Homo sapiens: one gene and its partners. The protein of the gene in region 1 purifies or fractionates together with the protein of each later gene. This does not show direct contact. Each region holds a gene or a part of one and is shown on either strand. Other genes may lie near its edges.

What was found.
Region 2: the proteins of EGFL6 (region 1) and ALG13 purify together in Homo sapiens (affinity purification with mass spectrometry; 2 studies listed by BioGRID and IntAct, with this or other methods). This does not show direct contact.
Region 3: the proteins of EGFL6 (region 1) and LRP1B purify together in Homo sapiens (affinity purification with mass spectrometry; 2 studies listed by BioGRID and IntAct, with this or other methods). This does not show direct contact.

What each region holds. Positions count from the first base shown.
Region 1 is NC_000023.11:13,621,441-13,625,100, reverse strand, and holds part of EGFL6 (epidermal growth factor-like protein 6 isoform 1 precursor), read right to left. Parts: intron 1,281-3,660; coding exon of another isoform or gene 1,278-1,280; coding exon 1,176-1,277; intron 1-1,175.
Region 2 is NC_000023.11:111,687,632-111,691,291, forward strand, and holds part of ALG13 (UDP-N-acetylglucosamine transferase subunit ALG13), read left to right. Parts: intron 1-255; coding exon of another isoform or gene 256-370; exon of another isoform or gene 371-2,541; intron 2,542-3,660. UniProt on the Homo sapiens protein: Catalytic subunit of the UDP-N-acetylglucosamine transferase complex that operates in the biosynthetic pathway of dolichol-linked oligosaccharides, the glycan precursors employed in protein asparagine (N)-glycosylation.
Region 3 is NC_000002.12:140,234,392-140,238,051, reverse strand, and holds part of LRP1B (low-density lipoprotein receptor-related protein 1B precursor), read left to right. Parts: intron 1-3,167; coding exon 3,168-3,266; intron 3,267-3,660. UniProt on the Homo sapiens protein: Potential cell surface proteins that bind and internalize ligands in the process of receptor-mediated endocytosis.

The DNA of each region.
Region 1 (3,660 bases):
ATATCAGCTGTGGAGGTCCTGGAATAACCTATGGGCTCCCAATATGATATAGCTCTGGTAGACATAAATTTAGAGATGCCATTATGGAAGAAAAGAGAAACTCAGGTTAGTTATCAACAAGATAGCTTTTCCAATGATATGATGTTTTCAGCCTGGTTAAATTTGCCCTTTGCTTACACTGAATCTTTAGTAAAAGTCCCATTCACACAACTGCTGTGTGAGATGTAACCCCTCTCCCCTAACCCCAAGTTCAAAAAGGAATTCTTGTTAGGGGATATCTAGGTTTTCTGATTGCATGTGAGGGCATGAAAGGAAAGATGTTGGAGAGGAATTGGTCTAGAGGAAGGATCTAAAAGAAAGATCTTTTAACTGAGGGCTGAGCCTATACATCCCCAAAGAAATAATTTGATTGATAAGTAACTGGAGTCCCTGAAGGTGTAACAGTTGACTTTAATTATATAGTCAGTCTTCAGGAGACAGAGATTCAATTTGTGCTCTAAATGGGATCTGCAAGACAAACACTAAGGGGATAGTTAGGGTCCGTCAATAGTGTTTAAGTAGGCAATGGGAAGGGTGGGAAATCCGCAGCTCACAGATAAGATTGAGAAAAATTCAAGGACAGGTGGCTCGAAAGAAATCCTCAAGCAACAAACAGAAGGGAAAGCTCAGTTCAGGAGTTCAGGTCATTGACTTGATGTTCATTATGGTTTTCATGCTTTGAGGGGCCACTCTACTAAAACACCAGGTTTAGGTGGAGGTTATATTTCCTTTCAAGATTTATTTCCCCCATGAAAACAAAACAAAAAACAAAAACTACAAGATGCCATGGCTGGTAAACTGGGAAGAAGAAACCATTTCTTTCTACCTTTTCCCTAACTCTCCCAAACTTTATACAAATCTCAACATCTCTCCCTCAGCAGCAGGAGAGTGAATATGGAAGAGGTTTTCTCCCATATCCTTTGTGGTGGCAGGTGTGTGGGAGAGGGATTAAGTAGGAGAATATATGCTGGACCAAGTTAGTCATCTATCAAGGGAGAGCTCAGAAGGTCTAAAAGTTTCCAAAAATGACAAACAACCCTGCTCTGATGAGTAATGGGAATAACAACCCATCACTCATGGAGGGCTTTCTATCCCTTCACCATATTGCAGAACATGAAACTGTCAAATATAAATACCATTATCTCGATCAGCAGGATTCCAGTCAAAATCATCTTCTCTATCCTGTTTCCAGTCACAGATCCCATGATTGAAGCTGCAGTCAACCGAGATATTTAAATCTGCTAAAAAGAAAGAACATATTTCATAACCCCTAAAAGCATTAGGAAGGTGTCTAACATTTGGGGCTTTGGAAGGCAATACCTTGTTTTCAGTCGCACAGAGTACAGATCATGACATACCCTGTTTTGAGTTATGTCTGTGAAGCCATTCTGAACAAATTCAGTTGTGATCTTAAAAAAACAAAAAGCTTTGGGAGGCTGAGGTAGGCAGATCACGAGGTCAGGAGTTCAAGACCAGCCTGGCCAACATGGTGAAACTCCGTCTCTACTAAAAATACAAAAATTAGCTGGGCATGGTGGCAGACACCTGTAATCCCAGCTACTCGGGAGGCTGAGGCAGGAGAATCACCCAGGAGGTGGAGGTTGCAGTGAGCCAAGATCACATCATTGCACTCCAGCCTGGGTGACAGGGTGAGACTCTGTCTCAAAAAAAAAAAAAAAAAAAACCCAAAATAAAACAAAAACCCTTTTTTAAAAAAAAAAAAAATTAGTAATGGGCGAGAACCCCATGCACAAAGAGAAACAGAATATAAGCAATTGTTTATCGAATTCAGGCCAGAAAATAAAATATCTCCTACCCAAATAAACCAGTGAAGACCTTGCCGGAACTTTCTACTTTCTTTTTCTTTTTTTTTGAGACAGGTTCTTGCTCTGTCACTCAGGCTGGAGTGTAGTGGCACAAACACAGCTCACTACAGCCTCTACCTCCTAGGCTCAAGTGATCCTCCCACTTCAGCTTCCCGAGTAGCTGGGACTATGGACACATGCTACCATGCCAGCTAATTTTTAAATTTTTTTTTTGTACAGATGGGGGTCTCATTGTGTTGCCCAGGCTGGTCTTGAACTCCTGGGCTCAAACGATCCACCTGCCTTGGCCTCCCAAAATGCTGGTATTCCAGGTGTGAGCCACCGTGCCTGGCCTCTAAACTGTTAATGACTGCCTTGTTTAGATGTGTCAGAGAAATATAAGAGTTCATTCAGCTAGTTTTAAGTTTTGAACCAGTGCCTGTGGTTACTTTTATGTAGATCCTGGCCCACTGTCTGTTTTATAAAGTTTTATTGAAACACACTATGCCCATTCATTCACATAACATCAATGACTGCATCTGAGCTACAATGACGGAGTTGAATAGTTGTGAAAGTAGTTTATGGCCTACAAAGCTTAAAATATGTACTATCTAGCCCTTTATAGAAAAAAGTTGGCTGACCTCTGATGTAGATAAATACCACTGGGAAAGGGCGGGGGTGAAGAATGAGATATTTTTTATTTATAACTAAGGCTAGCCTCTGGCTCTGATTTTGGGGCTTTATATGTTTTAATGCTGGGGAAGAAAGGAATGGTAAGGAAAGGGAATAGGGTAAAAAGAAACACAGCAGCAGCTGATTCTTGACTCATTTTGATTTGCCAAATATTTTATATCATTTGATTAGGTTGTTTAAAAAAACGTCTAGCATCAGACTCATTTTCAGGAAACTAAAACTAAGGCTCAAGTTCTGCTGACACTGAATGCTGGAGTTGGACCTGAATCCCAAATCAGACTGCAATCCAGGACCTTCCATCTTGCACATATCCTAAGTGAGCACATACGGTCCCTTTCCTCACTTTCCTTTCTTCTTAACTCCCTATTTTTTCTCTGTGCAGCAAATATATTTTCTTTCTAGTCCCAGTTTTAAAAGTAAAAGATGCCAGGTAATACTGGCTTCCAGTCTTCAGTATTCTTCAATGAGTGCTAATACTAGTTAGATAGTTGATGTTATTATCCCACAAATAGTGGAATATCAGCTTTTCAGTTGGTTTACAATTGTGGTGGAATGTTTCTCCCAAACTCTTCCCCTTCCTCCACATGGGGAAAGCGAGTGTGTAAATTGGGATGATGGAATAGTATATAGCAAACTATTCCATACAGAGATAAAACTCAAGGCTTTGGTCTCACAGGCACATTCTTTCATTTGTATAGCACTTCATGGTTTGGAAAGTGCTTTCACATATATTCTCTGGTTTAATCCACACCTGCCTTGAAGCAGATGCTCTTGGTGCCACACAAATATCTGTCAGTACTTATATTCTCTTGCAGGCATTTGGCTTTCTACTGGAAACACTCACAGCTCTCTGTGTGAGGGTGTTCTCTGGCTGGAGCATTCTTGGCCCAACCAGGTGAGCTAGAATGCTGGGAAGTTATTTTCCCAGGGACAGCCCTCAACCAGTGATGGACAGGAGTTGTTGGATAGATACCTCCATTTCCTTGCCTTTGGAAAGGACCACTAAGTGCTGGAATTGAATGTGGACTAAAGTCAGTTTGGAATTCAGGCTTCCCCTGTCTTGTCGAGGGTCCAAGTGGGATTGAGATCAAGTTGCCCCAGTGGTGCCCTTCCTTGCTTTCAT
Region 2 (3,660 bases), about 98 Mb from region 1:
AATATCATTTCTGAAATATATCAGTTGACATAGGAGATAAGGTATCTGCTGAATTTATATTGACATTTTATAGTACTCTTTGTATTGCTTTAATAATCCTAGTATGTATACTTATTAAAATATATAAAAATTCACATGTGCAGTTTTTAGAAGTACCACTATATTCTTGGAAGTTAGATTCAGTCATCAGTGGGCAGCAGATGAAGTATGGAATTTTCTCCCATGTTACCTAATATTTTTCTTCTTTTGTTTTAGCACGCTTCCTGGGCTGTTACAGTCAATGGACTTATCAACACTGAAATGTTATCCTCCTGGCCAGCCAGAAAAATTTTCTGCATTTTTGGATAAAGTTGTTGGATTACAAAAATAAACACTAAACTCTCAACACTTTAAAAGCAACCCCCAAATTCAACCTATGTAATGTGATTAAATCAAATTAAATACATAATATATATTTACAAAATAATATAATTAATAAACTTCCTACATCTATAGAATGTATAGGAAATTTTATGTTGTGCACATTTGCATTGGGTCCAAATCCTAATTGCAGTTTAGTGAAATTACTAGATTTTTTTCTAATCTTCAGTATGTAGTGAGCATTCACAGGTTTTCTCCTAGAATCTCAAGTGGAATTGGAATCATAAAAATGAATGAGATTTGAAAACTTTCACAAAGATTATAAATGTAGTTAGTTTGATACTCCTTAGAATAAAAAAATGAAACAGTAACAACTTTTATGTAAAAAAATTTTACATAAGAGTTAGCATCTTTAGCTTTATAATCTAAGGAACCAAATTTAAAAAATGATGGATTATGCTCTGTGAAATGAAAAGTTCAATCATTGCCTAAAAAAGATGATCAAGTTAGTTGATCTCTTGTACTTGGAAAAGCTACTTTTTTCCTAAAGAACAGAGTGGAGTGGATATATTCACTTTTTTTTTCTAAAACATACAAAGTGATAAAATAATCGTGCCTAATGTCAAAACTTTACTGGTTTGAGAAGAATAATCAAAAAGGACTTATACCAATAGGACTTACTATTGTTTTTTAAGGATCTCCTCTCACAGTGGTAATGAAACATTAACTGTAACAGAAATTTACAATTTATGTGCTTATAAAATTAGTTTTATGAATGAACAATAAACTGATGCATATAATGGCTTAAATATATGGTTTTAAAATTGACTTAACTTGAGCAAGATACATTATGAAGTTCTTTCTGATTAGAGTGTGTGGTCTCAAGACCTTTACAGTAGATTATCCTTAAGTGTCCATAGCTCTCTGGTACAATGTTTAGATATAGTTTATCTATCAAAATAGAACATTCACTATAAAGACCTCTCTTCCATTCCAATCATATTATCCCAACATGCTAAATGTTCCAAACATTTTATTTGGAATGCATTTTATCATGTTTTTATAGGTTTATTTTTCTGATTGTGTTTTATTTAGGCTAATATTAAAAAAATGCTTACTAGTGGTAGAAGGTGGTGACAAAGAAATACTCTGGGTAGCAGGAGGAAGCCAACTTGGATTAAAATTTTGCTGAGAATAATCTAAAAAGTGAGTAATCTGGTTGAGAATTCACAGCACCATAATCATAATTGTATATCAATGTTATGTTTTAGGAAAGGTCCTATTCAAATCCAGGGAGAGAATCTTTAGTGTTTTCTGGGCCCTCATAAATACGTTTTTCTCATTTGAGAAAATTGTGACTTTATGTTGGTCACTTAGTTTTTATAGTTTATGATGAAGAATTAAAGAGAAACAAATGAAAGGCAAGGTCTACTCAAATATCAGACAACTAAAAGGCTATACAGCCCCTAAATCCTTTGCTATCTACTTCCCCAGAATAATGCATAACCTAAATTCCATTATTTCATTTAGCAGAGGTTTAAGCCGTTGTTGTCAATTGTGTGCAGTAACGCCTCTGACTTCCCTTTTGTGGAATTTTGTATCGATTTTGGATTTTTAAGTCAAAGGAGACTTTAAAATCATTTTGATTTGGCACGGATTCTTGAGATTATCTAGTCCAATTCCATCATATTCAGATTTTACCATTTGCTTAAAGTATAGCTTTTGGCAGAACTGCCCCTAGGAGCAGCTCCTTGATTCCCAGTCCCCTGCTCTTTCTACCCTGCATAATATATGTTGTAAGCTTTTTGTTTCTTTATAGTTGTTTGCCTAGTGTTCATTTTAGTTACTCGAATTCCTTGCAAGGTAGGTTTTGTTTGTTTATTTATGGAAGTTATTTAGTAGGAATTTCACACTTAACTGGGTTTTCCTTTGGCGTATGACAACCTTACCTAGGACTTAGAAATCTGTGATTTCTGAGTTTTTGGAATTTAGGAAAATGCTCTGGGTAGGATTGATAGTAGATTGAATAAATTAAGACTTTAAGACAGAATTGTAGACTTTTGGAGTTGGGAGATAATTTAAAGAATATTTTAAACCACCAGTTTTACAGATGAGGAAACATGCTAAATTAATCACCACATTTACATCTTATTAGTCCTTATTAAAGAATGGTAACCAAAAGTCTGTTTGAAATGTTTGCTCTATTTGTTTGGTTTCATTACATGACAGAGCTGCAGGTTCTTGATATTAATGAGTAAGTGGAATGCAGTTTATTTAGCAGTGTTCTATTAGAGGTACTGAAATTTTCAGGGATAAGGAAATGAAAGAGAGTTTAGCATTGGGAAATTTGCACCATGGATAGATTAAGAGGTAGACAGTTAATAGAACATTTACGGGTTGGAGTAGATGAAAAGAGATGTGATGTTTTGGGATGACCTTGGGAATTAAGGATTTTAGATACTTATAATTTGGGAGGAAAGAAAGCTCAAAGGATTTGTTGGTAAGATAGTATAACCAATGAATTTGACATAGGGTTCTGGAACATTTAAAAGTAGTCATTATCTGCAAGTACCATCAAGTATCTGATTTTGGACACCTTAGACCTCTACTTTTTAATTTTAATTTTTTTTTTTTTGTATTTTAGTAGGGACGGGGTTTCACCGTGTTGCCCAGGCTGGTCGTGAACTCCTGAGCTCAGGCAATCCGCCCGCCTCGGCCTCCCAAAGTGCTGGTTTTACAGGCGTGAGCCACTGCACCCGGCTCTACTTTGTATTCTTTTAAAGGCAAGTCATATATAGGCACAAAAGAGTACAAAAAGGTTGTTTGCCACTTTAATATTTAGTTTGAGGAAGTTTTTCAAGACTAAGTAATGACTAGCAGTAATATAAATATTCTTCCTGGCCCTTTATTGTGGTATAAGCACGTAATTCCTCTGATTTGTTCATAAATGTAAAATTTGTGGAGATGACCAAAACACTTCATATAGTCTGAGAAATGACACATGGACAGATCATTTGAAATTAATTTTGGGGAAACATTTGGAAAGGGTCATCATGATAGCCATGTGGTGATCAATTTTCTGCTGTACATGTAATACCATTTATTTATTTATTTATTTATTTATTTTGAGACCAAGTCTCGCTCTGTCACCCAGACTGGAGTGCAATGGCGTGATCTCGGCTCAGTGCAACCTCCACCTCCCAGTTTCAAGTGATTCTCCTGTCTCTGCCTCCCGAGTAGTTGGGATTACAGGCATGTGTCACCCCGTGGGGCTAATTTTTGTATTTTTAGTAGAGACTG
Region 3 (3,660 bases), on another chromosome or scaffold:
TTAGAATAAGGGACTTTAGGATGTATTGAATGATATAGCCTCTTCTAAAGAGAAAGTACAATTATGGACTGCATTCACCTGAAGCTGAGTGTAACACATCTTAGAAAACACATATTTATTTGCTCAGTTCTTTTATAAACATGTTTTTATATGTTTTTTATTGAAAAATGATTCATTATCTAATTTTGTTTACATAAAGCAAACGAAAAACTCATTTAAAAATTGTTTTAGTATTGATATCACACAGCAAATTGTTTAGGTCTTCTTCAGGGGATAGATAGATATATAGATAGATAAAGGTCTATTATAAAGTAAAGCTACTGACTTTCAATGTTGAAATATATGCAAGGAGAAGACCAATACATGCACAGCTTCTAGAAATATGGCTGAAAAGTAGTTTGGTGAGACATTTTCTTTTCTACCCACTTCCTCCCAGTATTCCTTACAGTGTGGTTCTATGGGGTTTTGGTTTGGTAGGAACTGGATACTTACAAGATAGTTTTGTTTTCATCACTTCAGACATGGAATCCTTCTTTTAATGTTTTTTGTTTTAATTGATACATAATAAGTAGGAAATCAGTACATTGAAGAGATATCTGTACTTCCATGATTTTTACAGCATTATTCACAATAGCCAAGATATAGAATCAACCTAAGTGTGCATCAACAATGAATAAAGAAAATGCTATTCAGCCATAAAAAAGAAGGAAATCCTGTCATTTGAGGCAACATGGATAAAGCTGGATGATATTGTCATATATGAAATAATCCAGGCACAGAATGACAAATACCACATGATCTCACTCACATGTGAATCTATAGAAGTTAATATTGAAGTAGAGAGTAGAATAGTGGTTACTAGAGGGTGGAGAGGGGAGGAGGAAGGAAAATAGGTGTTGTTCAATGGGTACAAAGTCACAGTCAGATAAGAGGAATGGGTTTTGGTGTTCTGTTGCACAGTTAGGTGATGGTGGTTAACAATATTGTATTGTATATTTAAAAATAGCTAGAAAAGGATTTTTAATGTTCTCGCCACAAAAAAATAACTATGTATGAGGTGATAGATATGCTAAATACTTTGATTTTTTCTGCAATGTATACATGTATAAAAACATAACAAAACACAGTATCTCATAAATATGTATAATTCATGTAAAATAATGCTCTAATCAAATGTGTTGAGGTATTAGCAAATCTAGATACACAGCTTAGTGTAAAAATCTTGGTCAGTGTATTTTTTAAATATAAAAGAGTACAGTACTTTATTATCAAAATAAGTATGTTGTTTCCAATAATGTTTAAATGATGAGCCAGATAAGCTGTGTCCTTGGACTTCTTTGTAATTAAATCACTTTTGAGAAATATTTTTCTATCTGTCATAATATCCTTACTAGTTTAAAACATTTCATTGATACATATAGCCTGACAATCCACAGCCTTTTAAATTTAAAAATATTTGTTAGTTTTTATTACTATAAGCTGAGGTTGGCAACTTTTAAGGGAAATAGCTAAATGATACAATTATCCAGTTAAAGTTGTGAAGATTTACTTCAGTGAATTATCTGAATATTCTTTCTGATAATTTTAGAATATTTTTTCTCTAAATTAAGAGTATCAATTTAGTATTATGAAACAATTTTTCTTGGTTTATTCACTTATTTATTGAATAGTTATTTATTTTTCTGACTTACAAAAGTTACTTCATCAAAATGCACTTTTACATTGTAAATATCCAATGTGGCCAATCTACATTCAAATTATTTTGCAATCACAGTCATTGGTGTTCCTGAAGAATCTGAATAGGATCCCACATATTCAGTCTAGTTCTGAACCCATGATTAGGCTTTCTAAGCCTAAAATTGATGCTCAACTATTCACTTCTATGAAAATCAATCTTTTCACATGGATACATTGTGTACTATCAGAGAATATTATATTTTTCTAATTAGACATAATTTTATAGTTATTAAAATTCACTCCTACATCTGAAATTTTTCAAGGAAAAAGTCTTGGTAACCTTACATTTGATATTTTCTGCTTTAAAATATCACAGAAGTGGAGACATGATACATATTTTACACATTGCTATTGATAATCTATTATATCTATGAAGGAGAAAGACAAATAATAGAGTTCTGAAATTCTTTGCATTTTTCTTAGGAATAAAAATATAGTATTCATACATATAACAGACTAATGACGATATACTTTACACATTTTTCATATGAAGGAGGGTTATTTTTTCCTCATCATTTTTATTTCTAGTGATAGAATTAATCCAATTTTGTACACTTAAAGAGAATAGCTTTTTACACATTCAAAAATTTTCACATTTACTCTAGGAAGATAAAACTATGTTTCAGTGCCCCCAAATATATTTTAATGTACTTAGAACATAATACTCAAATATTTACCAATTGGATGACTGAATAACCAAAATTGCATCAAATATGACTTAGATGACTGATTCTATCTGGATCCTGATATTTGAATATAAATGTGAATTGTTGTCAAATGAGTAACTACAGAAAAAAACAGCTAGTTCTAATAGGTTTAGACAGTAGTGAGAAACAAAGGGCCATATTGAAGCAACCTTAATAATCATATGAATTTTATAGAGCATTCACTTTGTTACAAGCGTTTGATATATGCATGGTGCAATCAGTATAAATTACATTACATGTGAAGAAAAATTTTGTAGAACACTCATTTCTGTTATTCTCAAAGAGGGTAAAATTTCTAGTTCAATGGTATCTTATAATCAAAAGGATTGAAAGTACTTAATGCAGTTAATAAAATTGATTTGACTATGGGGGTAACCACAGAACAGTTTGAAGAGTTTAAAAGAGATAAATATGTACTAGTTTTATCTTCAAATTCATGCCAATTCTTACTTGGACTATTCTTTATATTTTCTGAATAAGACTTTTGTGAGAGAAATGTCTACCTATGAAGCAAAGATCCAATATTAATATTGGATCTTTAATAATATTAATATTGGATATTTTAAGTTGTTTTAAGTTGTTAAAGCTAACATGAACACACTGTAAATGGTGTAAGGCTAAAGGGTATTTTTATGTTATTTTTATGAATTAACATGATATGTATCGATGAAAAGTGATTCTATAATATTAGATCAGAAACTAAAATTTTCTGTTTATATACAGGCCAGGTACATAGGGGGAGGACCCAGTGCTTTCAAGCTTCCACACACAGCGCCGCCCATCTACCTAAACTCTGATTTGAAAGGACCACTAACTGCTGGGGTGAGAGAAGAATATTCGTTATTTCATGTCCGTTTCATCACAGAACCCTCACAATCAAAGACTAATTACTAGACTTAGAGGCTTGTTTTTAATTAAGTTTTTAATTAACAAGAGATTTCAAAATAGCATTTAAATTGGGGGCTTATGTTATGTGTCCTGTCTATGCAAGATTACATCTAAAACATTATTTTAGGCAAGCCATTAAGTAGAAATATCTCTTCTACTGGATTTGGAAATGTTATTGTCCCTTTACAGTGAACATGAGTATTTGTTATTCTTAGCAAAGAAGCTCTAGCCAGAAATTAAAACTGAATAAACTTTTGATTTTATTCATTTCCTCTCATAGTGGTTTATTTAATATATACAAATTTGACGTGCAGTTAAATAGACTATA